7 linked regions of the Homo sapiens genome follow. The protein of the gene in region 7 interacts with the protein of the main gene of each other region in a pairwise test. Each region holds a gene or a part of one and is shown on either strand. Other genes may lie near its edges.

Evidence for each region.
Region 1: the proteins of NDEL1 (region 7) and KALRN interact in a two-hybrid assay, tested with the Homo sapiens proteins (2 studies listed by BioGRID and IntAct).
Region 2: the proteins of NDEL1 (region 7) and CEP170 interact in a two-hybrid assay, tested with the Homo sapiens proteins (2 studies listed by BioGRID and IntAct).
Region 3: the proteins of NDEL1 (region 7) and NUP214 interact in a two-hybrid assay, tested with the Homo sapiens proteins (one large-scale study listed by IntAct).
Region 4: the proteins of NDEL1 (region 7) and PDZD4 interact in a two-hybrid assay, tested with the Homo sapiens proteins (one large-scale study listed by IntAct).
Region 5: the proteins of NDEL1 (region 7) and LUC7L2 interact in a two-hybrid assay, tested with the Homo sapiens proteins (2 studies listed by BioGRID and IntAct).
Region 6: the proteins of NDEL1 (region 7) and RBM10 interact in a two-hybrid assay, tested with the Homo sapiens proteins (one large-scale study listed by BioGRID).

Annotation. Positions count from the first base shown.
Region 1 is NC_000003.12:124,724,597-124,726,825, forward strand, and holds the end of KALRN (kalirin), read left to right. Parts: 3' UTR 1-1,729; downstream 1,730-2,229. UniProt on the Homo sapiens protein: Promotes the exchange of GDP by GTP. Activates specific Rho GTPase family members, thereby inducing various signaling mechanisms that regulate neuronal shape, growth, and plasticity, through their effects on the actin cytoskeleton.
Region 2 is NC_000001.11:243,189,282-243,192,781, reverse strand, and holds part of CEP170 (centrosomal protein of 170 kDa), read left to right. Parts: intron 1-1,287; coding exon 1,288-1,764; intron 1,765-3,500.
Region 3 is NC_000009.12:131,132,086-131,135,585, forward strand, and holds part of NUP214 (nuclear pore complex protein Nup214), read left to right. Parts: intron 1-510; coding exon 511-574; intron 575-1,020; coding exon 1,021-1,124; intron 1,125-2,812; coding exon 2,813-2,919; intron 2,920-3,500. UniProt on the Homo sapiens protein: Part of the nuclear pore complex. Has a critical role in nucleocytoplasmic transport.
Region 4 is NC_000023.11:153,820,545-153,824,044, reverse strand, and holds part of PDZD4 (PDZ domain-containing protein 4), read left to right. Parts: intron 1-3,500.
Region 5 is NC_000007.14:139,366,394-139,369,893, forward strand, and holds part of LUC7L2 (putative RNA-binding protein Luc7-like 2), read left to right. Parts: intron 1-3,500. UniProt on the Homo sapiens protein: May bind to RNA via its Arg/Ser-rich domain.
Region 6 is NC_000023.11:47,179,721-47,183,220, reverse strand, and holds part of RBM10 (RNA-binding protein 10), read right to left. Parts: exon of another isoform or gene 3,440-3,500; intron 3,342-3,439; coding exon 3,181-3,341; intron 3,010-3,180; coding exon 2,912-3,009; intron 2,803-2,911; coding exon 2,715-2,802; intron 2,007-2,714; coding exon 1,820-2,006; intron 1,715-1,819; coding exon 1,575-1,714; intron 1,473-1,574; coding exon 1,355-1,472; intron 1,271-1,354; coding exon 1,179-1,270; intron 1,060-1,178; coding exon 895-1,059; intron 1-894. UniProt on the Homo sapiens protein: Binds to ssRNA containing the consensus sequence 5'-AGGUAA-3'. May be involved in post-transcriptional processing, most probably in mRNA splicing. Binds to RNA homopolymers, with a preference for poly(G) and poly(U) and little for poly(A).
Region 7 is NC_000017.11:8,459,884-8,463,383, reverse strand, and holds part of NDEL1 (nuclear distribution protein nudE-like 1), read right to left. Parts: intron 3,376-3,500; coding exon 3,224-3,375; intron 65-3,223; coding exon of another isoform or gene 30-64; intron 1-29. UniProt on the Homo sapiens protein: Required for organization of the cellular microtubule array and microtubule anchoring at the centrosome. May regulate microtubule organization at least in part by targeting the microtubule severing protein KATNA1 to the centrosome.

The sequences.
Region 1 (2,229 bases), on a different chromosome or scaffold from region 7:
TTAAGGCTCTCAGTTGTTTCATTAATTCTAAAGGGTTAAAAAGGGCTGAAATTTGTTTATAGCACTAAATGTTTTTAATAGGAAATTTACTCACATAAAAAATTTAAGCAGAAGTAGTAGAATACAGATTATCATAAAACATATTTTCTATGAAAGGCATTTCTTCCTCATCTTCAATAAATATGAAGAAGTTAGAGGAGAGGAAAAAGCAATCACTCTAAGACAACTTTTCGTCTTTGAGGGACATTATGATAAGCCTGAAATTAATACGCACAGGCTATTGCATTTTTCTGTGAGAAATGTGCCCCTTTGCTGTGAGATTCTAAAATGTGTTCAGATTTAGTTTTTATTCAAATGATCAAGATAACGCATTAGTTAGATAACTGCTATTTCAGATAGTGAGGTTAGCTGAGAAAAGGAAGCATGGTAGAAGAAATGCAAATAACAATTCTTGGAATGCCAACTCCTGAGGCTTAGTTTAACCAAGCTAATTTGTTGGCCCAGGGATGGCCATCATATGAGTTTCCATCAATACCTGACTTCCATCAACAACTGAATCCATGTTCTGGAGTATTACAGAGACTGTTACTATGACCTCAAAGACTGTGGCTACGAATCTGAAGTTAACAAGACATACATCTTCTCTTACTAACTTAAGCCATATCTGTCAACTCTATGTTTGATTTTTCTGACCCTGGTGCTTTTACTTCTGTTTCTGCCAAACTTCAGCCTACTCTATGGGGAAGGTGAGTAAAACTAGTAGTTAGAACAAATATGAAGACTGAAAAAAACTAAACATACTCTTCATAATGAGATCCTGTTCAGAGAACAGTAGTGATCAAAGTGCAAACTGTTGGAAAATATGGATATATGTACATCTGTACATGTATATAGTGTATAATATGTATGTATATGTTATTGCTCATATGCAGAAATCTATCCATTTGCAGACAGCCCAGGTGGGTCAATGTTTCTAATGGAAAACCATTTAGGGCCATTCAAAACCATTAGGGCTAATTTGTGGAGACGAATTCTACTCATTCTGGAATTAATTTGCTGTCTTTTGACATCCACAAAGCCAAACTAACAAAGTGTGAAACATAAAGGGGCCATCATTTAGTTTATTCTGTTTATCTGGACTTATAACTATCTTTACATTTGAACTATTAATAGTTGATTTGCAAACTGTATTGGCATCTCTTGGTTTTGAGTGACCCCTGCCCCCCTCAAGTCTTTTGAGAATTTGGAGTGGGCTTCACTGGCCATTCAGACAAAGGGCCTTATTCATAAGTGGACAGGTTTCCCCATAGGGACCATCGCACATATACATATAAGTACATACTTCCATCAGGCTTGTAACAATTGATTTAAAATCACTCCACAGTATTGATAAATAGCTCTATATTTTCAAGGTGCAGAAGAATTCCACAGCCTTAATTATTTCAGTGTCTTGCTGGTCTGCCTTAAGTGTATCTTCTGGGTTTTTGGTTATTTTATTATTTTTAAATTTTTCTGCTGTTGTTCATTTTGTATGCACACAATGTCGTTTTGTAAAGGTAGGTTGTAAATATTTTATTTGTAAGTCAAAATCACTCATGTGTAATGTTGTAAAGTGATGACCTGCTGTCTTGTTACTGCTACAGTAAATGTTATAAGTTATGGATGAAACTTCAAAATGTACATCTCACATGTTATGCATTCCTATAAATATACTATACTAAAGATACTATATGGTTGTCTCTTTTTTCCTAATTAAACCTTTGTTCAAAGAAAAGAGTAATTTTTTTCTTTCTCCAAATATATGAAAGACTTAGAAAAGGTAAAAATATCACAGGATTATTACAACATGTTTGGCCCAGGATTTTAGAGAGAAAGCAACAATTTTGTGCCCTAGAGTATTCTAAGGCATTTACCCAAAAATGCCAAGGAAACCTCAGAGCCAGGTGTGGTGGCTAGCACCTGTAAATCCTAACACTTTGAAAGGCCAAAGTGGAAGGATCTCTTGAGCCCAGGAGTTTGACACCAGCCTGGACAAAATAAGGAGACACCCACGTCCCCCCAACCCCCCACATATTAAAAATTGTTTTAAAAATATTAACTGAGTGTGTTGGTGCATGCCTGTGATCCCATCTACTTGGGAGGCTGAGGTGGAAGCATCATCTGAACCCGGGAGGTAGAAGCTACAGTGAGCTGTGATTATGCTACCTCACTCTAGCCTGGGCAACAAAG
Region 2 (3,500 bases), on a different chromosome or scaffold from region 7:
GTCAGGTTTTATATTATTTCATATTCAGACTGCTGTCAAGAAACCAATTATAGTACCTGACAGATCCCACTAAAATTTAATTTTTGAAAAGATGTTTCAAAAGACCAAACGCTTCACTTAATTAGAAAATGTTTGGAAACAACCTAGTCTCCCTGTATTGCCTTGTTTTCCTAATAAATTGTCTGTAAGTGATTTTTCTATTAATCTGTTTAAAAGCAGAATTTATTTTTGAGCTTTAGGGAAATATGTCTCATTTCAACTTGCTCTTCATTTTGATAATGGACATGCTTTGCTTCTTCAACAACAGGACAATAGCATCTTTAATTTTTTTATTTTGCATTTGCGTACCGAAAACGTTTTAGTTGTCATTTTTATTTATGTATTTTATTCATAAATGCATCTGTTTCTATACTTTTGTATTAGATTCTGAGGCAACAGAAGAATAGTGATAGTGTTCCAGAGTTGCTTGCTCCTTCTGCCAACTCATGTTAATCTGAGGTTTACAATTCAGCTTTCCTCCAAGGAATTTTGACACTTTTGCATATTCTGCTGTATGGAAATGTAAACTTCCAGAGTTATTGTCTGGAAACTGAATTTCCTATTTTAACCTTATTTCGTTCACACTGCTGCTTGGATTGCAAACCACATGTTTTAGTCTTTATAAAATGTTTGTATCTTCTTGCAAGGATCGCACTTCAGCAATATCTTTGTCATTCTGAAAGTAATGTTTCCGAATGTAATGGTGAAGAATGGTAAGTGGAATCATTACTTCCAGAAGATCACTTACATATTTACTTCATGTTTGTATTCTCATTTGAGCACCTATTCTCCTTTGGAGCACTACATGTGTTCATATATATTTCAGATATCTCATCTTGGCGACTTGAGAAGGGAGTTCATGGTTTTTCTGTCACTTTTTATATATACATTGAACATGCATCTCCATCTACATTTTATTTTAATTCTTTTGGACCTTGATGAATTCTAGATCCAGGTTGGAAAAAATATGGACCTAGCCATGCAAGATCCATTTCTTAACTGCTTTGCTCTCATTTGCCATTGCTGCTGCTTATCTTCCATCCCCTATTGGTAATCAAATCGCATGTTTATAATCAAGATTCTTTCTTCTCTGTGACATTTGTTCTGTGATATAAATGCCATTGGTTTTCATCCAGACTGTGATCTGCCTTCTGGTTCTCACGGAGTAGTACACATGGCCATTACCAGACTCCCTCAAGTGCCAGAAGCAATCAAATATTTTGAATTTTCTCTTATTTTTCTCATTAGGGTGCGGCATAGATGCCAAGCAAGTTGAGGAACAATCTGCAGCTGCAAATGAAGAAGTACTTTTTCCTTTCTGTAGGGAACCAAGTTATTTTGAAATCCCTACAAAAGAATTCCAGCAACCATCACAAATAACAGAAAGCACTATTCATGAAATCCCAACAAAAGACACGCCAAGTTCCCATATAACAGGTGCAGGGCATGCTTCATTTACCATTGAATTTGATGACAGTACCCCAGGGAAGGTAACTATTAGAGACCATGTGACAAAGTTTACTTCTGATCAGCGCCACAAGTCCAAGAAGTCTTCTCCTGGAACTCAAGACTTGCTGGGGATTCAAACAGGAATGATGGCACCCGAAAACAAAGTTGCTGACTGGCTAGCACAAAACAACCCTCCTCAAATGCTATGGGAAAGAACAGAAGAGGATTCTAAAAGCATTAAAAGTGATGTTCCAGTGTACTTGAAAAGGTTGAAAGGTAAAGTGATTTGATCATTCAGAACTTCCTACTTTACGATAAAGAAAATCTGGTCTTCATTTACTAGACTACTAGTAGATACTTACATGGTAGAAAACATTCTGCTTTTTTCAAAGGTTATATTTAGTCTTAAAACTAAACAGGAAGCTACACTGCCCATGTCCAATTTCCTCATTCAAAATAGTCTTCCTTCATTTTCTTGACAAAACCAGATTGGTTTTATGAGCTTATATTTATGCTATAAAACATGTTTCTTTTTCTTCTAGAAATATAAGATTTATTAAGTTTACCAGTAGAGTTCCCTAGAAGATGAGTTCCATCATTTTCTTGATTTAAGGAAAAGATATATTCAATTCTGTTCTCTATTGAGATCAATATCTAGATTCTGAAAGAAATTTTAAGTCATTTGGTCTGAGCCAAAAGTTCTACTTTGGTAATGCAGTCACATCATTGATGGAGCGCTTCAAAGTATTCTCAGTGGTTACTCATAAAACAAAGATTTTTGGTTTAGAAATATTTGGTAGGATCTATTAATCCAGTTTTAAAATTTTTTTTAATATTAGGACTTCATGAAAATTAGAGTTGAATGTTCATTTTTGAAATAGTTATATATACTTTATTTGTGTAGAACTTAGCCAAAATTAGTACAATTTGTATGTTTGTACACTGATGTATCAGCTGATCAGTTTTTTCTCATTGGTTTTGCCAATTAAATTTATTTTAGAATTGAGTATAGATTTATGTTACCCTATCTTTTATTTAATAAGCTATCTATAAGGAAAACGATTTTGAACAAATTGTGATTACACGTTTAGCTGACCATTCTGTTACTATATTAGGAGTTTTTGTACTCCTAACACTTCATCTAGTACTTGAGCATGTGATAGGTACTAATTTGAAAACAATGGGCGATTTCTCTGTCAATGACAAGACTGTCCCTGATTTAATCTGTACCTTATGTCCTGGCATTCTGATCAAGTAATGAAGAAATAGTATTTGTATACTTATTTCTGATTTGCTTCTAAGACATTTCCGGACAGTGAGATGATGTGATTACCTAATTATTTGTTGGAGCCTATCACAATATTTAATTATAGTTATCAGCAGTTACCTGGCATATGTATTTTTGAGACATGATTGTGACATTTTACTTCTAGACAATACGTAATTGAGACATTTTGTTTCTGTAGGTTAACACTCACAAACACATAGGCTGTTTATATGAATTGGATAAATAATATTGATCTCCTAGTACAGTATAAGAGGTAGCTGAACCTTGAGAATTTAGAAATAACTTAGACTTTTTAAAACCACTCTTAATAAACAAAAACTGAGGTAAAATATCCTTTTAAAAGGTAATCATTTTAAAAATACCTTTATTAAACCCATTTATAACTTAGTCATTATAACTATTTTCTATATTGACTATTATTATTACTACTATTTTTTTTTTTTTTTTTTGGAGACAGAGTCTCGCTTTGTCACTCAGGCTGGAGTGCAGTGGCGCGATCTCGGCTCACTGCAAGCTCCGCCTCCTGGGTTCACGCGATTCTCCTGCCTCAGCCTCCCGAGTAGCTGGAACTACAGGCGCCCACCACCACACCCGGCTAATTTTTTTTATTTTTAGTAGAGACGGGGTTTCACCGTGTTAGCCAGGATGGTCTTGATCTCCTGACCTCGTGATCCACCCACCTTAGCCTCCCAAAGTGCTGGGGTTACAGGCGTGAGCCACCGCG
Region 3 (3,500 bases), on a different chromosome or scaffold from region 7:
TTCATGCGTTCATGCGTTTCTTTTCTTTTCTTTCTTTTTTTTTTTTTTTTGGAGACCAAGTTTTGCTTTTGTCACCCAGGCTGGAGTGCAATGACGTGATTTCAGCTCACCGCAACCTATGCCTCCTGGGTTCAAGCAGTTCTCCTGCCTCAGCCTCCCGAGTAGCTGGGATTACGGCACCCGCCACCACACCCAGCTATGTATTTTTAGTAGAGACGGGGTTTCGCCATGTTGGCCAGGCTAGTCTCGAACTCCTGACCTCAGGTGATCCACCTGCCTCGGCCTCCCAAAGTGTTGAGATTACAGGCATGAGTCACCACACCCAGCCACGTTCATGGGTTTCTGTAGGATGAAGTCCTGGAAGTAGATAGCACTATTCTGTTTCTTCAGTCTCTCCCGGCCAAGGAGATGGAACAGGTAGCATCTAAGGAATAGATTAGATTTGACAGTTTGATTGGTTTAGGATTTGTTTCATTTGATACTTTATTTTCCCCTCCAAATCTCTTTCAGACTTTGCAGGAAAAAAAAGTCATTCCTTGTCCTCCGTTTTATGAGTCAGATCATCCTGTCAGAGGTAACAACTGCTTTTCTTATTGGGCTGACCTCTAATGACATGTTATGTATATTACAGAAATTCAAAATCATGTAATGTACCTGCTCAGTGAGGTATTGGTGTTTGCTTTATGAATAATGTCACTATTTCAAACAGCTAATTAAGTCAGTGTAAATTATGGCCCTCTGGGTGACATCTGTGTTTCACGATAAATGACATGAAATGGATCCCGACTTTTTATTACAATTCTTCATAATTTGCCCTGATTATAATCCAGCAGAAAAATTACCATTTGGGGATGAGTTTGGGCTTCTTGGGTCATTGTACCTGTGCATTATATTTAGTCAATGAAATCAGGGCCTTTGATTTTTTTTTTATCCATAGTGGCTATTCCAAACATAAGCTGCTTTTTCTTGTATCTGGTTGCTGTCATTTTTATGAGCTACTGATTAAGATGTGTCTTTCAGTTCTGGATGTGCTGTGGATTGGTACCTACGTCTTCGCCATAGTGTATGCTGCTGCAGATGGGACCCTGGAAACGTCTCCAGATGTGGTGATGGCTCTACTACCGGTATGCCTGTGGAAGAAATTTCATTGTTTGAGAATTAGAGAAGTCTTCTAATAAAGCTGGAGGCTTTGATTTCAAGGGGTTTTTTTGTGTTTGTGTTTTTTTTTTTTTTTTTTGAGACAAGATCTCACTCTGTCGCCCAGGCTAGAGTGCAGTGATGCGATCTCACCTCACTGAAGCCTGGACCTCCTGGACTCAAGTGATCCTCCCACCTTAGCCTTCTGAGTAGCTGGTACTACAGGTGCACACCACTATGCCTGGCTAATTTTTTTTTTTTGGTAGAGATGGAGTTTCACCATGTTGCCCAGGCTGGTCTTGAACTCCTGAGCTCAAGTGATCTGCCCACCTAGGCTTCTCAAAGTGCTGGGATTACAGGTGTGCGTCACCGCACCTGGCCTGATTTCAGGTTCTTTTACTTACTGGCAGTGATTATGCAACTTCAGGTATAAGGTTTCCATGCTGCACCATGGGCCAGGGGTCTAAAATTGGAGTGTCCACAGCATGTTCTACTGTTATGAGGTTAAAAAAAAAATGATTTTGCTTAAGCTATAAACTATGAGTCTTGGTTAACTCGATAAATTTTAGAAAAGCAAGACAGTATCTTGATTTTTAAAATTATTTCATTTGCTCTCGAATATTTAATGCCAACAGTGTGCTAGGCACTGCTTTAAAGCTGAGTATATAGCAGTGATCAAGGTGATGGGCTTGCTTTTATGGTTTTAAGTTTGTTGTTGTTGTTAATTTTTATTTATTTTTTAGAGACAGAATCTCACTCTGTTGCCCAGGCTGGCATGTAGTGGTGCGATCACAGCTCACTACAGCCTCAAATTCTTGGGCTTAAGCCATCCTCCTGCCTCAGCCTCCCGAGTAGTTGGGACCACAGGCATGCACCAACACAGCCAGCTGTTTTTAAATTTTTCGCAGAGGTAGGGTCTTGCTTTGTTGCCCACGCTGGTCTCGGACTCCTGGCTTTAAGCAGTTCTCCCGCCTCATCTCTCAGAGCACTAGGATTACAGGTTTGAGCCACCACACCTGGCTGGTCTTACATTTTAATGGGATAGTCAATACTAAATGTGAGATCAAGGACTGATAAGAGTGATGGAGAAAATAAAGCCGTGTTAGGGATAGATGATGACTGGTATGTGTTTGAGATTGTGTGTCAAGGGAGGCCAATTTGATACTTGAAAAAGATGTCTTGTTTTTAACTCTTTTGGATTTCTAATAAGGTTGAGTTTTTGAAATATGTTTATCTAGATGCCTTATTTTAAGATTAGAGGTTTTTTCTATTCTAGGGGATAATATTAACACTAGTATTTATTAACTGCTACTTATGTTTCATGTACTGGGCTGGAAGTTTTGTATGTATCATTTCATTTTACACTTTACAGTAGCCTCTGAAGTAGGCTTAGTAGGTCTAGTATACACATGAGAACACTAAGTATCAGGAAGGTTGAAAAATCTGCATGTCTCGTGGGCAGAAAGTGGCAGAACAGAGTTTAAATGCAGTTCGGTTGATGGCCAATGTTTGTACTCCTTGTACTAAGTGCTGCCTTTATACCATGTCCGTATATCTGGACTTTGAGTAAATATTCTCATATAACTTTAAATGATTTATTATTTGAGATTCTTTTGCTGTGGGATCTGAGAAAAATTGCACATGAGAATTTTTTTTCTTGCTTTGTTCATTGTAGAAAAAAGAAGAAAAGCACCCAGAGATATTTGTGAACTTTATGGAGCCCTGTTATGGCAGCTGCACGGAGAGACAGCATCATTACTACCTCAGTTACATTGAGGAATGGTGAGCAGAGAGTCTGGACAGGGCATTCCTGCTCTCACTGGAAGATCACACCTGAGTCACCTTGTCCCATGTTGAAATCTTTTCTGATTGATTGATTGATGGATTGGCAGGGTCTCACTCCATTACCCAGGCTGGAGTGCAGTGGCACGATTGTAGCTCACAGAAGCCTGGAACTCCCAGGCTCAAGTGATCCTTCCACCTCAGCCTCCCAGATGGGACTACAAGCACATGCCACCACACCTGGCTTATTTTTAAATAAGTTTTTTGGTTTTTGTTTTTTGTTTTTAGAGATGGGATCTTGCTATGTTGCTCAGACTGGCTTCCCAAAGTACTGAGATTACAGGTGTGAGCTACCGCACCCAGCCTGAAATCTTTTCCATTACAGAGGAAAATGGAGGCTGAGATGCCTTGAACATATTTTCAGCTGATTCTTGATAATGTCTTTCTATTATTTCTGTTTCCCCAATCTTGAATTATTTATCTTAAATACATACTAATTTCAAAAATCTAATTTTCTCAATAACCCCTAGTGATGACTTACGAAAATATTGATATTCAAGGAATATATTAAAAGTTTCCTG
Region 4 (3,500 bases), on a different chromosome or scaffold from region 7:
TTTGCACACTGAAGATGTGCAGGTTACCACCCAGCAACAGACCTCACCAAAGCTTTAGAACAGGAACTCCATGGCCACATGCACGCATCCTGGGGAGAAAGGTGTCCTTTCCTTCCTTCTACTTCAGGGGCCCTGCCAGAGAAGGCAGTGCAGTGTGGAGATAGGAATGGAGGCAGCCACCAACTGACAGCTGTGTGGCCAGGGGCAAGTCGCTGCATGGCCCACTGGCTCAGTGACTCAGTTTCCTCAACTGTGAAATGGCAGTGAAGAGTGCTTGCGTCCGAGGGCCATTGTGACAAGGAAAACAGATGGTGTGTCCCCCGGGATCTCACTGGGTGGAGGAGGGAGTTGCTGCCCTCGGGCCATTCAGTTGGTCATTAAGAAGTGGAAATTGGCTGGGTGCGGTGGCTCACGCCTGTAATCCCAGCACTTTGGGAGGCCGAGGCGGGTGGATCATGAGGTCAGGAGTTCGAGACCAGCCTGGCCAGCATGGTGAAACCCCATCTATACTAAAAATACAAAAAATTGACCAGGCGTGGTGGCTCACGCCTGTAATCCCAGCACTTTGGGAGGCTGAGGTGGGCGGATCACCTCAGGTCAGGAGTTCGAGACCAGCCTGACCAACATAGAGAAACCCCATCTCTACTAAAAATACAAAATTAGCCGGGCATGGTGACACATGCCTGTAATCCCAGGTACGCGGGAGGCTGAGGCAGGAGAATTGCTTGAACCCGGGAGGTGGAGGTTGTGGTGAGCTGAGATCACGCCATTGCACTCCAGCTTGGGCTCGAAACTCCATCTCAAAAAAAAATATATATATATATATTAGCTGGGCATCATGCACCTGTAGTCCCAGCTACTCGGGAGGCTGAGGCAGGAGAACTGCTTGAACTCAGCAGGTGGAGGTTGCATGAGCCAAGATCAAGCCACTGCACTCCAGCCTAGGTGACAGAACGAGACCCTGTCTCAAATAAATAAATTAATTAAATAAAAAATAATGAAAAAGGAAATTATATGGAGAAGGCCTTACATCTGGGTATGTCACAGTTAATGCCCAGTGACAGAAGAATGTCCAATATTATTCTGAGAATTTCTCTCAGGAAAGGGACCTCCAAGTTTTGAAGAAGTGTGATGTAGTACAATATTAGTTAGGACAGCCTGGGCAACATATTGAGACCTTGTCTCTACAAAAATAAAAAATTGCTCAGGCGTAGTGGCATGCGCCTCTAGTCCCAGCTTCTGGGGAGGCTGAGTGGGAGGATTGCTTGAACCCAGGAGTTGGAGGCTTCTGTGAGCCGTGATTGTACCACTGCACTCTAGCCTGGGCAATGGAGCCAGACTGTGTCTGGAAAAAAAAGAAAGAAAGACAGAGAGAAAGAGAGAGAGAGAGAGGGAGGGAGGGAGAGAGAGAGAGAGAGAGAAAGAAAAAACAGATGGACAGGGAACAAAGCGGAGGCATATGTGGTCATTTTGCACAGGAGTTGGGCCGGAGGAGGCGAGGCTGAGCAGCCTGGGGCTGGACAAGATGTCCTCCCTTTCAGTGCATTCTGCCTGTCCTCATGGCTGCTTGGAGCATTGAGAATGAAAAACGCTGCAGAGGGAATATTGCTTTGATTGTAAAACGCTGCAGAGGGAATATTGCTTTGATTGTTGCTAGATGTGAACTGTGCCCTTAGCCAGTCAGGTTAGCCTGAGGTGGGTGGGAGGATGGGTTTAGTTGCTGGGCCACGTGCCTGGAAAGCTGTGAATATGTACCCGAAGGTTGATCTTGAGAATGGCTTCAGGAAGTGGTTGGCTTTTCCTGTGCAAGGTGTGGGACACCCCTCTTTTCCTGTGTGTTTTTTTTTTTTTTTTTTTTGAGACAGAGTCTTGCTCTGTCACCCAGGCTAGAGTGCAGTGTTGTGATCTCGGCTCATTGCAGCCTCCGCCTCCTGGGTTCAAGCAATTCTGCCTCAGCCTCCCGAGTAGCTGGGATTACAGGCACCTGCCACCACGCCTGGCTAATTTTTGTATTTTTAGTAAAGACAGGGTTTCATCATGTTGGCCAGTCTGGTCTCAAACTCCTGACCTCTAGTGATCCGCCTGCCTCGGCCTCCCAAAATGCTGGGATTACAGGCGTGAGCCACCGCGCCCGGCCTCCTTTCTGCTTCTGAGCCAGGACTATGGAGGTGTCTGAGAGGCCGCCGCTCTCCCGGAAAGGTGGGGGCCAGGTGGATTGATGAGACTTCAGCAGACCCTGGGCTTCGGGGAGGGAAGGAGAAGTGAGGGGAAAGAAAGATGCCCTCATGCAGAAGGCCTTCGTTGAGGTCTGCCCTGGTTCCTCCAGGGCGCGCTCTGAGTCAGTACAGCGCCACCCTCCACCCGAAGTCCTTGTTAAGGTGCACTTTCTGACTGAGCCACTAGCATGGGGCCTGGGATTCTGCACTTCTCACAAGCTCCCAGGTGATGTGGATCCCACTGGCTGTGAGTAGCCAGGGCCTTGGGTAGGGACCGGGAGTAGATCTATGGTAGCCCCAAACCACATTAACATGGGTGGTGAAGTGAGGTGTTGTTTTTTTTGTTTGTTTGTTTTGTTTTTTTTTTTTACAAATAGAGGGTAAAAATTGTTTACAAATAGAGGGTAAAAAAACACACATAGAGGGTAAATCAGAACATCCAGGAGTCGTTGCCTACGTGAGGGCTTTACAGGACATAACTTGTTCTTCCCTGCCATGTGCAGCTAACTGACCCCCTTCCCTGTCACCGGCACCCCTACCGGTATACATGTCTCTCATGGACGCCCAGACACCCCTCCCCCGACTAACTGCTCAAAGGCCTTTGAGATGAAGCCCTCCCATGTTTCTGTCTCTCCTGCCCCCAGGCAGAAAGGGTGGGCACAGAGTTATGGAAGCGGGTGGTGTGGCTTGCCCAGGAGGCCACAGTTGGGGGCGTGGGCAGCCATGCTACTTGCCGGGCCTGTCACCTCTTTGTCCCTGCTAGAATTCTAACATGTTGGTGGAGACATTTTGCAGCCACCAATGCAGTAATTAATTCAGGCAAAAATCATCACTGGATGCCAAAACCATTAGATGTAAGGTCGTTGGGGACAGAATATTCACAAAGTCTCCAAATATTACCCCAAATTACCTGTGAATCAGGAAGGGAAACTGCGTCTTTACAGAGGAGAGATCTGGCAGCTGCCACCTGGACCATGTGATCAAACAGCCTCCCCAACAGTGGGGCAGCCTGACCCTGCCAGCCGCCAGATGCAGGGCTGGGGAGGAGACATACAGCATCTCCTGCAAGGTGCTCTTGTCAAAACGCTCAGCCTGAATCTCACCGCGGGAATGAATCAGGCAAATTCAGACTCTGGCGCATTCTATAAGGACTGGTCTCTTCCAAGAAGTCATTCCCATTAAAGTAAAAAATATATATATTTTTTTCTAGATTAGAGAGGAGACATAATAACTAGAGACCTAACAACCGAATGTAATATGTGTGCTTCTTGATTGAATCCTAGA
Region 5 (3,500 bases), on a different chromosome or scaffold from region 7:
TGGATAGTATCTATAATATACCTGGCTGTTCTGTTCTGTACTGTGCTCTAGTATTAGTTTAAATGGTAGACTTTTCTCTTAAAGTAACTTTAATAGTTTAATAGTTAAAGTTACTTGAAGGTATGTTTTAGATCAGGGACTGGCACTATGGCCTCCTGCTTTTGGTAAATAAAGTTTTATTGGAACACATCCATGCCGATTCATATACATGATGTCTATGGCTGCTTTGGCTTACGACAGCAGAGCTGAATGGTTGCAACAGAGTCATATGGCCCGCAAACCGAAAACATTTACCATTTGACTCTAACAAAAGCTTGTTGATCACCATTCTGGTTTAGTTATTCTAAACCAAGTGTGGTCCTTGGAGCAGCAATTCAGCATCACCTCAGCATCACGTCGTATTGTTAGAAATATAAATTCTTGGACCCACCTACTGAGTCAGAAATTCTGGATATGGGCCCCAGCAATCCATGTTTTTAGAAACCTTCCAGGTGATTCTGATACACATTAAAAGTTTGAGAAACCCTCTTCTAGATCAGTGTTTCCCAAATGTTTGTCACACTTATTGCCTTTATTATTATTTATTTTTATTTTTTATTTTTTGGAGACAGAGTCTCTGTCTCCCAGGCGTGAAATGCAGTGGCCTGATCTTGGCTCACTGCAACCTCCGCCTCTCGAGTTCAGGCGATTACCCTAGCTTCCCGAGTGGCTGAGATGACAGGCATGCACTGTCATGCCCTGCTAATTTTTGTATTTTTAGTAGAGATGAGGTTTTGCCATGTTGGCCAGGCTGGTCTCAAACTCCTGACCTCAAGTGATCTACCTGCCTTGGCCTCCCAAAGTGCTGGTATTACAGGCGTGAACCACCATGCCTGGCCTTGCCTTTATTATTATTTACTGTTTTCTGTTTATTTAATATTTTCCTTTATGTCAACTCACTTTCTAAAAATTTTAAGTTAATTTTAAAATGAAAGTTTATACCACCATAAAAATAAATACAATGAAAACAAAATGGTGTATTATGTAACTAGACTCTTGTCACTTAGGGTTCCTGTGCTAAAAATTAGAAGTTGTTAAATTTATTAAACAAGTACTGTTGCAAAATGGGAACTTTTTTTCTTGACTTAATTGTGATTAATAATTTCCTTACTGAGTGGTATTTAAAATGTCTTGTTGGCAAAATCATGTAACACCTAAAGTCATCTTTTGTGCAAATCTCATACTTTGGAAATTACTGTTCCAGGGAGTATTCATGTGAAAGGAAAGCTGTTTGAACTATATATATACCTAAGCCTGTAAGCAGAAATGACTGGACAGAAATACAAGCCTGTGAGACAGAGAGATCTAGGAGATCCCTAGAGAGGTCCATCAAGACCTCCAGGATGAAATTACCTCATTTAGCTCAATTTCTCACCTCTCCGTTAGTGCTTTGGTCCACGGGGGTCAGTGTTTCTGCAGGATTTCACCAACTGGTTCCACAGTGGGAATGTGAAGAGGTACCTGGCTGTGGGAAAAGCTGCTTATCAAAGAGAGGCCTGATAGAAATGCTAGGGAAAGTGGCTGTGAGCCTGCATTATGGACGGGAGCAGAGCGGCAGGGCATGTTGCTAGGACTAAGCAGTCGATTCACGTGAGTCTGGACACCATGTATAAATATTTTGAAAACTTCCTGTTACAATTTAATTTACTCCATTGTGTTAGAGGGAGTGCTTCCCTGCACATGGTGTTCTGTATATTTATTGGTTGATGTGCTTTAGGGTATAGTAATTATTTATAGCAATAGATTGATACCCAGGTTGCAGAGTTGCTTTAGTTATATCTTTATTTCCTTTTCTTAGAGATTATAGACATAATTTGCTTCTGTCATCTTTTGACCAAAAATCTAATGGGAATGAAGAATTACACTTGAATGTTTATTTTTAAGTAATAAGTTCTGTGATAGTGATTATAGGTGTCTGCATTTAAAAAAATGTTTTAAAAAGTACAGAGGTCAAACAAGCATCTGTATGATTGAACAAATGTTATTTCGTATATTTCTGTCAAATTTTAAAAAATGGATAAAGAGGCCGGGCACTGTGGCTCACGCCTGTAATCCCAGCACTTTGGGAGGCCAAGGTGGGTGGATCACCTGAGGTCAGGAGTTCAAGACCAGCCTGGCCAACATGGTGAAACCTGTCTCTACTAAAAATATAAAAATTAGCCAGATGTGGTGGTGGGTGCCTGTAATCCCAGCCACCCGGGAGGCTGAGGTTGGAGAATTGTTTGAACCCAGGAGACGGAGGTTGCTGTGAGCCCACATGGTGCCAATGCACTCCAGCCTGGGCGACAGAGTGAGACACCGTCTCAAAAAAAAAAAAAAAGTAAAAAGTGCATAAAGCATTACAAATAAAGTCTTTTGTGGTCCCCTTCACCGTCTCAGTCCTTTCCCCAGAGGCAACCCTTTTTGTAAATTTGTTGCATATTCACTGTGAGGCAGTATTTCTGCTGTGTTGTTTAGTTTTAAGGCTCACGTCTCCTTCATGGTGATCTGTTTTTCATTTTAACTTCTTCCTTTATCATTGGGTTGTCTATCACCTCTGTCCCTTGATATTTTCATCTTTTTTTTTCTTTTTTATTTCTTTTCCTTTGGATTTGGGGAGGCTCTAGTTGGCTTCTGTAGCTATCACCAGCTGATGAGAACTTGTCTTTTTTAATAGATAAATCAGCCAGTTACTTTTTCTTTGATTATTTTCAGCTATTGCTTGATAGCCAAAGATAGCTTTCGTTACTTCTAATTTTGTATATAGAAAGTTCTGGATGATAGAAGGCACCGGCTATCCAGAGTGCAATTGTTACTATGTCAGAATTACAGCTCTGCAAGTAAGTATCAAAATATAAAATTTAGCAGGCTGTAACTTTTTATGCCATATATCTTAAAATAAATTCTATATAACCTATTTTAGGACTTAATGTTAAAGTAACTATTCAGGCTTTTCTGATGTCTCTTGTAAATTTAAGAAGAGGAATAGGCTGATAGATTTCCTAAAGCACATACCCCCCAAAACATGATAGCATTGGTCCCTGCCAGCTACCAAGACCCTTTGCTTGTATTAATATAATGAGAGAAGATAGGTGCAGGGCATGGAATAGAGCCTTGGAATGGAGATTCTTTAGTATTCCTGTTCTCACATTTTCATCATCACCATTCTGGTTAGCTTCAAAAGATCCTACAAGGTTTTTCTTCTACTAACAAGGCTGTTCCCCAGTTTCATTCTTATAATCTTGTGATATGGATTTTCACAGACAAGTGGGCCAGATTTTTAACATTTTAAAAACATTAATCTTTGATCATATCCAGCAAGAATGAACTTGTTCTGGAGATTTCTTCTACAGTGGGCATCACATTTTAAAAATGTTTGGCTTGTCATGGGGATTATGGTGGGGGGTGATACTGGTACCTATTTCTGATTATAAACTTATGGGACCATATGAACCAGAAGATTAAGAAGGATAGCTTTTCTG
Region 6 (3,500 bases), on a different chromosome or scaffold from region 7:
CTCCATTTAATGCCATCACTGAGTGGGTTCCAGATAAAAAGGGGGAGTTTGGCCCAATTTTCTCTTGCTCTCATGCATGCTCTCTTGCCCTTTGCCATGTTATGATGCGGCAAGAAGGCCCTCACCAGATGCCAACACCACTGGGCTTCCCTGCCTACAGAACTGTGAGCCAAATCAATCTCTTTTCCTTATAAATTACCCAGTCTGTGGTATTGTTATGGAGCAGCAAATGGATGAAGACACTCCTCTTCCCCTGACATACACCCACGCTGTCACATTTGTTGTGCATTTCCATTTTATCATTTAAAAATGCATAGGAATGTTTATTTGTGTATAACTTTATATGCATGACACAATGCCACATTCTATATTTCCATGTTCCCCCCAGCACAGCACCATTTTTAGAATTCATCAGGTTGCTAAGGTAACACTTAGTGCTTGCTTGTAAACGCTACGCTCACAGTGTCACACCCTTTCTCCACAGAGAGACACTGAGGTGCCCTCCATCTGCCCACTCCCACAAAACATTGCAGGGCTTTTTTCCTGCCCACCCCCTTATGGCCTGTGAGAATTTCTCTGGCATACATGTATATTCACCAGCAGAATGTGAGGGTCCCCACCATGGGACAGAAGACACCTGACAGGGCTCACTCGGATGGCACAAGCCACCTCCTGGAGTTGGGCAACCCTGCCACACACTGAGGAGACTGCTCTGGCTCAAGGCCATTCAGCAAAGAGCAGAGCTGGGGCAAGAGCATGGTCTGCTAAGCAGTCACTGCCCACATCCACACCTGCCCGCCATCTCCCTTGGCAGGAGAGGGCAAGAGCTGACAGAGTGCCGTTGCTGGAAGACACCACACAGCCAGCCAGTGACTGCTGGACCCTGGTGTTCACCTGTTGAGCTGTCTTGGTCTTGTGCTTCTCCTTCTTCTCTTTGCCCTCCTTCGAGGGTGCCCCTGTCTCCTTATGTCCGTCGGCCGACTGCTCCAGGGCGGGAACATAGGTCCGCCTCTCCCCATCCCAGTACAGGTACTGCTGGCTCTGAGCATTGTAGTAATACTGAGGGAGGAGGAGGGAAGAGGGGATGTGAGGGAAGACCTTGTGAAGGGAACCTGCAGGGCTAGCTGTTCCTGACGCGACCTGACCCGATCCCATCCCTCCCTGGGCTGCCCTATTACCTGGGAGTTGGGGTCATAGTAGAGGCCGGTCTGGGGGTCATAGTAGTAGCCGGAGGTCTCATCGTACTGGTAGGTAGAGACGTCGGGAACAGCTAGGGGGTGAGGGGAACGGGGTCACACTATTCCCTGCTTTATTAAGAACTCCCCACCCCTACCCACAGGCTGTGGCTACTCACGGTACTGGCTGTAGGATTCCTGGGCAGTGGGGCTGGTAGCCGGTGGGAGAGCAGAACTAGGATGGGTAGGGCTCTGGAGCTCAGATTTGAGCACAGCGGGTGACATGATGGTATACGACTGGTCATGGGGCCAGACAGGAGAACAGGGCTCAGTGTCTGCCCATGCCACCCCTGCCGCCTGCCTGCCTCCCCGGGATACATACCCACAGGGCTCACTCACCTGGCTGTTGGCAGCAGTGCCCTGGCTACTGCTCGCCTCGGCTGATTGTTGGTAGATGCCAGGAGCAGCACCAGGCTGGGCGCGAGAGAAAGCCTGCATCGACACAGAGTCGGCCCCAGGCTCTAGGGAGGCCTCGGGACCTGTAAGGAGGGACAGGGCAGGGACAATGCCTGTGAATAATGGGGCCGGGGACTTTATGCCTGCTGGCCCCCACCACAGCTGCAGAGAGAGATGCTGGGGCTCACCTGCTCCAGTGGGATCCCCTTTGGTTCCAGTGATGCCAGGGCCCTTGGTGCCCTTGAGGTAGCCATGGGCATAGAGGGAAGACTCTGTGCCCTGGCTGTTGCCATAGCCCTCATCCTGTTGGTAGTAGCTGTAGTCGACCGGCGGCTCCTCGGAGGTGGCCCAGGTACCCTCCCCACCTTGGGAGGCCTGAAGGGCAGGTGGGAGGGGTTCATTAGAACAGGAAGGTGTGGGGGTGGGGGGTGGGGAACCTGCTAGAAGCATCTGTCCCACACGTGGGGCTAGTATTTCTACCTGACAGACAAAGCATGCAGCCTTAAGACAAGTGGAAAGCGAGGGTTGCCTGGCCACAAGAGAACAAATAGGCCAGTGGCAAACACAAGACAGAAAAACAGATGAACGCCAAAATGTTCCAGGGCTGATTCTGCTGATTCTGCTGTGTGTGGCGTGTGTGTTGGGTGTCAGGCCAAGGAAGACACCATCTTCTTACTTCTTTATTCTCTTCTCCCAATTTTCTCTCAACCACTTATACGTTATTTTTATTCAGGAACATATGATACGTGTATATCATATATGTATATATTACATATAAGGATATGTGTATATCATACCTATTCAGGACAATAAAAACCCCACCAAACAGCACAGAATGCCAGGCACAATGGCGTCGTACATGAGCGCATGGGAGGCAATTGGGAAGAAAGCTGCGGTGATGATGAAGGGGAATGTCCCAGGGGGTCTAGAGAGCCAGGAGCAAGGTAGAATAGCCATGCCAGCTACTGGGAGAGGGTTTTGCATCCATGGATAGCAAGCCAGCCTTCCTGCTTCAGAGAGGGTGCAGGAGGGTTGAGAAAGCCCAGGTCTCAGGACGCTGGGAGGCACAAGGGGTCTGAGTACCTGTGAGATGGCCCACTGGGCCGCAGCAATGGCAGTGCTGGCCACAGAGGCAGCACTGATGCGACTGCCTTCATTGGAGGCCATGTCCCTGAGGAGGATGTTAGAGACTGGGAGTGAGATAGGAGGCCCCAAGCGGTAGGGGGGAGTGGGAGGGTGGGGAGGGGAAGGGTGGGAAGGCACACAGGTGGGGCCCTGACCTCTTAGAACCCTTGGCAAACTCAACATTGATGGTCTTGCCGTCGATAGTGAGTGGTGGGTGCAGGGCCTGCAGGATCTGCAGCAGCTGGGCTGCCTCCTGTGGGAGGAGGGGAGGCAGGGACAGAAGGGTCAGGCCCGGGGAGGCCCCCGGCTCCATTGCCCGATTTCCAGGCTGGCAGCCGCGGTGGGAGGCTGGGGAAAAGGACCCTCGTCTCCACCCCGGGGGCCGGGACCCTGGCTGCCCGGCCCCCAACTGTGCCGCCCTCACCACGATGGTGGAGAGCTGGATGAAGGCAAAGCCGCGGTTCAGTTGGGTCTGCTTGTCCTTTATGACGCGCACGTTGGAGGAGGACAGCACCGCGTAGGGTGCCAGGGCCCCCAGGATGGAATCCATGGTGCTGTGTGGGTTCAGGTTGCGCAAAATGATGGCTGTGGGAAGGGGCCCAATGTTAGAGGACACCCCTGGCACTCTTGCCAGCCCTGCCCTTCAATGCCCCCACTGCTCCCTTTCCTCTGCCCCCACTCACTCCGTGCCTTTGCAACTGCCGCTTCCCTCACTGCTTCCTCCAGGATCAACTCTGCTTGGCG
Region 7 (3,500 bases):
AAAAGAGCACAGCAAACAAATTCAGTTACCCATGAACAACGTGGGAAATATGACTTTTTCTTGCCTAATAAAAGAAAGGAGAACATATTAAACAGTAATACGAATACTATTTCCACATCACGCCCTAAAATTAGTCCATGCCCACCTACACACAGCCCAAAAGAACTCAGAGTGGCTTACAAAAATAGAGCACATGTTACCTAAGAAACTACATAAAGTTATGGGAAAAAAAAGAGTGTTTTTGAGAGACTCCAAGCGACCACACTCCACATGAAATGTGTGTCCTTTCAGATGGTGAGACAAAGGGTGACCATGGTTGAAGGAAACAGCTCGGCACCTGGGAAGCAGGCACGGCAGCCCATGTTTCAGGAACTGGCAGAAGTGCTCACAGACTAGACAAAAACCTGATTCCAAGAAGCCCTCAAGTGACCAGAATTTACAAAATACTTTTGAATCCCACAGAGCAATACGCCCAGTTAAGGTATATTGTTTTATGTGAGAAGGCTTCACTGCATCTGAAGTTTCAGCGGGTGGGAAGGTGAACACATGTACACCCGCACACATGCACACACACACAAACCTACTTTGATGATGTCTCTCCCCCAAACAATCCTGCCGCAGGTTTCTGGCAGCACTAGTGAGCCATCACCACGGTGCTACAGACTCCTCAGGAGTGAGAGGGAGGGCAGGCAGGTTCTGCAGTGGAGGGCTTTTTCAAATGGGGCACTTTTCTCATGCTGAAACTACAAGCCATACTTCTCCACTTCTACACAGACAGGCTTTTGTGTTTTTAACCTGCCAGAGTGTATAATGGACCTGGGAAGTGGAATATCCTGCCCTTCCTTTTGCGGCTGCTACACAACATCTTGGTTTTTATCTGGTCAACAGGTTGGCAGAAGAAAAGCCAGAGGTAAAAAGCCAGACAGGCCAAAAGCCGGAATCGAAGCAAAGCGGCAAGAAAGTGAAAACACAGCAAAACCCACAAAAGAGTTATCCTCAGGAATACAGCAACTAGAAAGACAACTCCAGCAACAGTAGGTTAATATTTCAGTGCGCATACACAATCCACTTATCATATAAGCTAAACACTCACACAACAGCCAGCCCACAAAAGCATATTTCTTAATAGAAAAGGCACAATGTAAAATGTCTACCATTTAAAACCAAAACTCAGTATCTGCAACTGTTCCGATTGGGAAGCACAGCACATTTCCGGGTTCAGCTCAGGAAGTAAAGCCTACACTTACATCTCGGATGCTCTCAAGGGGCAGAGGTGCAGTCAGTGTGCCCAAGGCCTGTTCCTGGCTTCAGCTCACCCTAAGGTCCCCACATCTCCCTCAGAACAGGCTCACCTCTTGGCAATCCCTGCCCTGGTGCTCTGTCTTGGGAGGCAAGTGGCGGGCAGGAGTAGCGACCCTGAACAGACAGTGTTATCCTTCCCTCCTCGTGACTGTTCTTCAGGGCTTCCACACGCACAGGCACCTGTCCGACCTATCCATTTATGATTCACACCTGCTCTCATGAAAGGCACCTGCGGCCCATCAAGAAATACGATTCCAAGGAGAAACTAATAACTACTCTAGTAGAGGATCATTATAAGTTGTAGGGAAAAATAATTAGGCACTGCTTCCAACATTTATGAAGACTACCCTAAAAGTTCTCCATATCATTCAGGGGAAATGGCTACGCTCATGTAAAACCATCCAGTCATTCCATTTATCATTCCACTATAAAAACAAGGGCTGCCGCAAGTCTGCCTGAAACTCCTAAGCCTGAGGAAAATCAATTTTATGTTTACTCCACCCGAGGAAACCCAATGGTTAGAATAAAGTTCTGATTTCAGCTGGGCGCGGCGGCAAGCCCAGCACTTTGGGAGGCTGAGGCAGGAGGATCACTTGAGCCCAGGAGTTTGAGATCAGCCTAGGCAACAGAGTGAGACCCCCATCTCTTCAAAAGAAAACAAAAATTATTTAAACAAATTTTTTAAGAAAGAATAAAGTTCTAATTTGTATAGTGATGTTTTAGGATGTGCTTTTAATACAAAATCCTTAATGAAATGTATATTCTCCAGGGTAAAATCAGGGACAGAGATCAACCAAAACACTCCACTGCAAGGATAAGAGCCTATTCAGAGTGCACCGTGTGTCGAATCTGCTCCTTTACACATGTGCCATAATTATTGAGGACGGCAGAAAATCCCAGCTGCTTTCAGAGATTGTGAGCGTTTCTAGAGTTGTACCTGCTCTGCTTTCAGAGAAAAACAAGCAAGAATTACCTCTTTGACTCAAAGCAGAGACAGTAGCCAAGGATCACGGGTGCCTGTTGGCTGTTTCAATAACAACTACCTTAGGCAACACCGTGAGCATCCCAGGCCACGGGTCCTAATAGTGACCTATATTAAGGCATACTCATACAACCACGTATTACCATGTAGTATTTAAAAATAAATAAGTAAATTGAGGTAGAATAATATACATGACATGGAAAGATAATGGCAATAGAAGTCATGATAGGCACACTGCAAAGCAATATTTAAAGTATAATCCCGTAACTGTGTTACAAACAACTTAGAGCAGATGCATAAAAATATGATTTGGCATGCCTTGGAATAACTGTAAGGAATGCAGAAACAGTGTGAAGGCAGGAAACCATGACTTTTTAGTTCATATACTTCCATACTAACTGAAATTTTTTGCATTAAGGATGCTTCAACCTTAAAACAATTTTATTTCAATCTTCAAAAAAGCCTTAACTTTATACAAAAGTTGTATCTCCTAAACTGTATTTGATCCAGTGCCTAAGTACTTCAGGGCTTTATATTTCTCTAAAATTCTCACAGGGGATGTCTGTTGTAGAGTTTGCATATATTTAATTGTGATGCTGTCTTCTACCCCAAAAAAATATTTCCAAGTCTGCCAGCCTGTAAGCACCTGGAGAACAGGGACCTTATCGCAGTCATTTTGACTCACCAGAGCCTCACACTGCTGCCTTTCAAGAGTCTGCTTCCCAGGACAGAAGCCTCAGATTCAGGGTTCCTGGGGCAACAGACTCCATGGGGACTAGAGGACAACAACAGACGTCATGTCACCTAAGATTAGAATGATAACAGGCTTCGGGAAGGTTTGTCAAGCTGAGTTTACCTTTTCAAGGCTTCATTATGCTCACTTACTAACCTGTCACTTTACTACTCAAAAAATTATCACTTAAAACATTCAGGACTTACCCTTTGTCGAAGAAAGATGTATGCCCTGATCGAGAGAACTTTGTGCCATTGCCATTCAGCACCCCACAGTTAACATTCCCTGAAATATAGGATTTTCGTGATGCTTGGTCCTTTGCAAAATTCCTGCAAGCTGCTAATTTGGATTCTAAAGCCTACAAAAAAGAAGGAGGAATGATATGGTTGTCAAAACAGTAGCTGCACATAAAAATTTGCATTTCAAACCATTTCTATTTCAAGCCTCAAAACTTACTCATCTCAGTTGATAATGGTGGTTAGT